Homo sapiens: one gene and its partner. The protein of the gene in region 1 interacts with the protein of each later gene in a biochemical or structural test. Each region holds a gene or a part of one and is shown on either strand. Other genes may lie near its edges.

Region 1 (3,958 bases):
GCAGCAGCTATGGGAAGTTATGCCGCAATGGAGGGAAATGCAGAGAAAGACCCATTGGGTTCTTTTGTGACTGCACTTTCTCTGCATACACAGGGCCATTCTGCTCAAATGGTAAGTGTGGCATGGAAGACTGTAAGAGGAAAATTTATTCAATGTGGATTAAATGTCTGGCAGTTCTTTTCTATGCAGCTATTTGAAACAAAAAAAATTCAATTTCTGAATTGCTTTGGCAAAGTATCTGTTGAATGTAAAGAATGAGTACAAGATCCTGGTGATGAGACAGCATCATATATTCAAAGATGGAGCGCATCATATTTCATTACTTAAATATTTGACTCATTTATGAAAAACTAGTGTTTGTTGATGGTAAATCCATTAATAGTCACCTTTATGTATTATAAAGTGTTAGTTGCTCAATCTGCTTTTTTCTACCTAGTGTTGATGCTCTTAAATAATATGGCTGTCAGCAACCTGCCCCATGGGGCAATTCTTTATTTTAAAATCATTTAAAGCATTACTTTTTTTTTTATTTGAGACTGAGTCTTACTCTGTCACTCTGTCACCCAGGCTGGAGTGCAGTGGCGCAATCTCGGCTCACTGCAACCTCCACCTCCCAGGTTCAAGCGATTCTCCTGCCTCCGCCTCCCGAGTAGCTGGGCTTACAGGAGCCCACCACTATGCCCAGCTAATTGTTGTATTTTTAGTAGAGATAGTGTTTCACCATGTTGCCCAGGCTGGTCTCAAGTTCCCGACCTCAAGTAATCCACCCACCTGAGCCTCCCAAAGTGCTGGGATTACAGACGTGAGTCCCCATGCCCGGCCCTGTTACTATTGTATTTGTTGAAGATATTCAACAATGCAAGGATATTTAAGATGCATTGTTTTTTATTTGAGTTTTTCAGACATAGTTTTTCCAGAAATATAAACAATATACCATTAAATATCGATGCATTACAAAAATAGACACATTTATACATTAATCATACATTTTATTGTATGATATGTTGAATATCTGCTGGTGAAATAAAATAGTAGAATACTTTTCAGCTTCTCTCATTATCTGATATGCCTCATGGAAGAAGAAAAGAACAGTTGTAGGATTAAGTGTTCTGGACAGACTTCCATGAATATACAAACATTTATTACTCTTTCATAGTTCCTCATAGAAGACTGACATCCAATTTAAATTCATTTACTTTATTTAAAGTGTCTCTTGGCTATTGAACCTTTTCCTGAAGGAGGCTAACAAAACTTGGCTCCAGATTAAAACAACTCCTGACTTACAAAGAAAGCATGGGATGAGTTAATAAAAAGATGGCCAAATGCTCTTTTCAAGTCATCTGCTTTTCTCAGGAATAATCTATAATTTACAAATCAACTTGTGATCATAATCATATACTGCTGGTACCATTCTAGGACACTTTTCATGTTTAAAGTGATCATTAAGACCACTTCATTAAAATAACATGTCTTTGTTTTCTGGATATAAATAATTTCCAGTTCATCTTGCTAAGTGCAACCGTAAATGTTACTCTGTATGCACATATTATATTGAATATAAAATGCGTGTTATAGATAATAAAATAATGAAACAATTAAAAACTCTAAGATGTCAAGGGAGCCTAAACATTACTGTATGATCCAGTAAGTATCATCTACAACTTGTATTCAATAACCAGTCCTTTTTCAGTAATGGAGAGAAGCAGATTCAGGGATTTAAAACTAGTTATTTCTTCTGCCATCTTCTTCATTTTCATACATATGTATTTGGTGTGTGTGTGTGAGAGAGAGAGAGAGGAAGACAGAGAGAATTTGGGATATTAATCTCATACCAGGAAAATACTACACTTTTGTAAAATGATTTAAAAGAGGTTGGTTAGTTCTGTTTGTTGATCCTGTTTCCCTGTATCATGTTAATACTAGACTTAGCTTTCTTTTTATAGTACACAATAACTATGAGAAAATGTTTAGACATAAAGGAAAATTTCTGCCTCTTGATCCTGGGAAAGAAGAGAGTCTCTCAAACATCCTTCCTTCCTAACTATTTTGTAGATAGGAGGCCCTAGACTTCCTTTAAGATACACTTCATTTAAGATTGTACTATCTGCAATATAACAGATGGGAGTTAAAATTTAAATAAAAAAGTAGATGATCAAGGAGATAGAAGACAAGCCTGGTTTGTGTTTGAACTCAGATAAGAAAGCATTTAACTTTCAACTGTAAAATTATACTAGTGCATTAATTATATGTCATTTTAACAGAAAGCCATTTCAAAGATCATTTTGAAAGCTCTATTAACTTACTTTATTATTTGATTCTATTTTGGGGTTGGTTCTTCTATCTATGCAATTCATTAAAGAAACTAAAATATAATTATTGTAACTAAAACAAAATCCTTGTACTTAAAATTTTTAACAAAAATATATATATATATTATTTCAGAGATTTCTGCATATTTTGGATCTGGCTCATCCGTGATATACAATTTTCAAGAAAATTATCTTTTAAGTAAAAACTCCAGCTCCCACGCTGCTTCATTTCATGGTGATATGAAGCTGAGCAGAGAAATGATCAAATTTAGTTTCCGAACAACACGAACACCAAGCTTGCTGCTTTTTGTGAGCTCCTTTTACAAAGAATACCTTTCTGTGATCATTGCCAAAAATGGTGAGTTCTTTTTAGATGAGAGAGAGAAAATTAAATTAGAACACTAGCTCTGTAATAATATGGATCATTCTCGTGTTCTGGCTTCTCAAGCTACAAACAGAAAAATGGAGTGTGCCTGTTTTTTGTAGTCATATTTTTAGTACTATCCTATAAGTATAATCTAAAAGGATTATTTAAAATGATTAAGATGCCCTTATCTCTTTATGATTTTGATAATTTTACATATTCAATGTATAATTTTATTTATATAAAACATTTATTATATTATTGTTAGAAGCTCCTTGACTATTCCATATGGCTATCAATATTTGTTTCATAGTTCATTTTGAAATAAGGTGTCTTGTTGTATGTAACTATTTCCTGCAAATCAAAGTAAAGAAACATTAAGGGAGTGTTAATAAACCAGCATTTTGAGTAAGAATATGTCCACAAGATGACCTTTTAGTTGTACTTTTAGTTAAAAAAATCATCATGGGAAAAAAATGTTATATCCATGCAGTGTTAAGGGAATGTAGATTAGGAAATGTGTTTCCTACAGAAAACCATTTACTGCTATTTTTCTCTTTCCCACATCTAGATTAAAGGTAAAAATTTTGGAAATAACTTCTCTGGATAAGAAAAGCAAACATACAAACATGTGACTATATCATTTCAACTGATTCAAATATATCCCAAGGGTACTGTACTGAACACCAAAATAAAAATAAGATTGTTCGATAAGTGTATTTATTCTTACTGTGCATTTTGAGCTTGAAGCTTATTTATATATTAGGGCATTTTCTTTGTCAAATTGAAAGATATCCTGTGAAATAAATTAACTGACATCTCTGCAGGCAATTAAATGAGTAGTACTAATTGTGATGGTAAATTTGGCTTAAAATCATTCATCTTACCATTATTTCATTTCAAAGTCTATGACCATGACTACTTGGACATATTTCTTCTCTTTAGTAAAACTACATTTGTGTTTAATAATTTCATTAATTGTTGTATTTCCAGAGTGTGAGATATATTTTTTAAATATAGGAACAGAATATTATTGCAATATTAAGCAATAGGTTGGCATTTCAGAAATACTTAATATTATTTTTTAAGTGAGAGGCAAGTGCAGAGATTTGCATATGCTTAATCTGAGTTGATGTTAAATTAAAAGATTTGCAGGAAAGAGAGTGCTTGTGTGCAACATACTTGGTCATGATTTTGCAAATACATTATTGCAATTTCACTTGGAAACTGACTCTTGGGGATTATAAAAAGGTATCTTCCAATTTTTCCCTCGAAATGAATAAAT
Region 2 (2,990 bases), on another chromosome or scaffold:
CCATTTTGCTACTACGTTAGACAGGCAATAATTGAAGGAGACCAGGGAGTCTCTAGAAGTGATAAAGGTCTAGCAATAAATAACATGGGACTGGCCTGGTGCAGTGGCTCGTGCTTGTAATCCCTTTGGGAGGCCAAGGCGGGAAGACTTCTTGAGCCCAAGAGTTTGAAACCAGCCTGGGCAACATGGCAAAACCCCATCTCTACAAAAGTACAAAAATTAGCTGGACATGGTGGTGCACATCTATAGTCCCAGCTCTTGAGAGGCTGAGGTGGGAGGATCACATGAGCCTGGGTAGGTCAAGGCTGCAGTGAGCCATGATCAAACCCCTGCACTCCCACTTGGGCAACAGAGTGAGACCCTGTCAATAATAAACAAATAAATAACATGGGACTAAATAAAGTTTTACTTGGAATATGTGTACCCCTGCACTCCCACTTGGGCAACAGAGTGAGACCCTGTCAATAATAAACAAATAAATAACATGGGACTAAATAAAGTTTTACTTGGAATATGTGTATTTGCTAAAGTTGCAAGGGAAAATATTGCAAATTATACATCATTTGAAAAATTATCTCTCTTTAGTTAATTTTCAGTCACAATATTGGATGTAGCAGCTCCAAATAGAGGTTACCTGATTATTGCTTTTATAATTGAATTCTTAAAGAGTTTACATCATAATTATATAATTGTATTTTTGAAACATCACAGAAACCCAACATGTACCTATTTGTAATCATCAGAGTATATACATCTGATTAGGACTCAGCTATGTTCAAGGCCTCATCGAGCCCAACATACAATTATCATTTGCATTTTCTGCTACAATCAAAGAAAACGCATTGTGTGCTATTAGTGGCCATTGCAAGAAGGAAGATGCTGTTTTCAATAACAGGAAATCAAGAACAAACAAAATAATCATCTTCCATTTAAAAAAAAAAAGCCTACAGAAAAGTGAAAAGGACAGGGTCCTAAAAACATCTAGTGATGCCAATAAAATGGAATGTTTTTTAAAAAGTGATTTGTCTCACTGAAGCTGCAGAAGGGTATCCCACACTTATATATTATGTGACTGCACTAAAAACAGACGCTTTTGGTGCACTGAGCGTTACAAAAAGGCAGAAAGCTCACAAATAGATGCAATTTTAGGTATGGGAATAAAATGACATAAAGAAACTGACCTTGTTATCAGTTTAGCTGTAGAGGTGAAAGATAAGGATATTTCAAGGAAAAACCTATTACAGGCAGTATATAGAGTACTTGGGCCCAGTTGAAGCCCAGGTAATGTGATGATAGTAATGATAATGGTCCACTGAATGCTAACAGACAAGTATATATAGTTACAGCTGTACATGGATATCACAACCTTACACACAAATTCTAGAAAGATCATTGTGAAAATGACATTCCATAAATCACATGGAATCAGCACCAAGTGTGTCTTTATGCATGCCCAAAAAGGAAGGAGAAACTGACAACCATCAATAATGAACAATGACTTATTTCAAATCTAATATCTAGTGCTGATAAATTTATTTTGTTGTTGTTGTTTAAACGAGAATGTTTCTATGGGCCTCCTAAGTCATCTTATGCCTAAAAATAACAGCTCTTTTTTTGTGTCTTTCCAAGAGAGGTAATATTAAGAATTAATAGGTATTTCAGAACCTCCAAAACGAACTCACTAAACGAGTACCAACAAGTTACAACCTGAGCTGGATTTTATTTTCAAATGATAAGCAACAGCAATAAGGCAGTCCATATTCTATAAGCTACTTTTGTTACACATTAATGACTAAAACAGCTTCTGTGCAGATTTCAAATTAATCGGACAAAGAATATCAGCTTTATGGCATTAAACTCATTTGAAAAAGGAGTGGATGGCAATACAACTAAAGTTTTACCAGAAAACAAGAGTTATCTAAGCAATAATCCAGCAAGAAAAGAGAACTACTTCTGATTTCCTAGAATACATCCCTAACAGGTTATTATTTCTGATTACCATGGCAGCACACAGCATTTTCCATCTAACACTTTACAAAGATGCTTGGTCATGCCATGCTCTGCTGTATTAAATGATCTTTGTTGAAACCATTCATTTCCATTTCTCTTACACCTACGAAATGTCAAATAAGAGTGATAAGACAGTCATTTACTCTCAATTTTCTCTTTAATTTAGAGTGTATTAGAACTCTAAAATAATAGACTAATATATTTTCTCAATTCTCCCTTCCTCCTTTCTTTCCACTGGAAGGAAATCTATTTCTGATAGCATTTCTTCTAAAGTTTAGGGAACTAAAAAGTGCTGCTGTTTAACCAAAAAAAAAAAAAAAAAAAAAGTTCTAAAGCATAGTTATTTTGAGTAAATATCTTTCCAAAAACTCTACAAAAAAATATAAAATCTTCCCTGGAGTGCTTATAAAAGGTAACATAAAAGTGGCTATGAGTGAAAAAAAGAAATAATGTTTTAAGGACTGAAAAAAAAATCAAATGCAAGTAGTTCTACCCTACCCATCTCTTTTTTACCCTTCTTTTACACATGCAGAGACACACACACACAGCACAGATTTCAACCACAAGTTTTAAGAGCATGTATAAAGAAGCATACAAGAAAATCAATCAATCTTTGTTTTACAAAGAGAGAAAGTTGGCCATAGAAATCAACATGCCACAGGAATCTTCCTTCCCTTACTCAGAGGATCAAAAAAAAACCAATGCTTCTAGACCAATAAGGGGCATAATTCACCTTTCATTTCCTGAACATATCCTGTTCAAACTAGGATAACACAGTGAAGATACTATGAGGTAAATCATACTCCAATCCTAGTTTACATTAAGATTTTGAAAAAAAACTACAAAGCTATTGAAATCATCTATTTATATGTGAAAAACAAAGCATGGGTATTAATGGAGAAGAAAATCATCTGTCGAGAAATACTCCTTAAAACTTACTTTTAAAAACCTTTTGAATGAATATTACAATTGATCCTTAT

Evidence for each region.
Region 2: the proteins of CNTNAP4 (region 1) and GIPC2 interact in a test that uses a peptide from one of them, tested with the Homo sapiens proteins (one large-scale study listed by IntAct).

What each region holds. Positions count from the first base shown.
Region 1 is NC_000016.10:76,535,674-76,539,631, forward strand, and holds part of CNTNAP4 (contactin-associated protein-like 4 isoform 1 precursor), read left to right. Parts: coding exon 1-111; intron 112-2,442; coding exon 2,443-2,667; intron 2,668-3,958. UniProt on the Homo sapiens protein: Presynaptic protein involved in both dopaminergic synaptic transmission and GABAergic system, thereby participating in the structural maturation of inhibitory interneuron synapses.
Region 2 is NC_000001.11:78,135,955-78,138,944, reverse strand, and holds the end of GIPC2 (PDZ domain-containing protein GIPC2), read right to left. Parts: 3' UTR 501-2,990; downstream 1-500.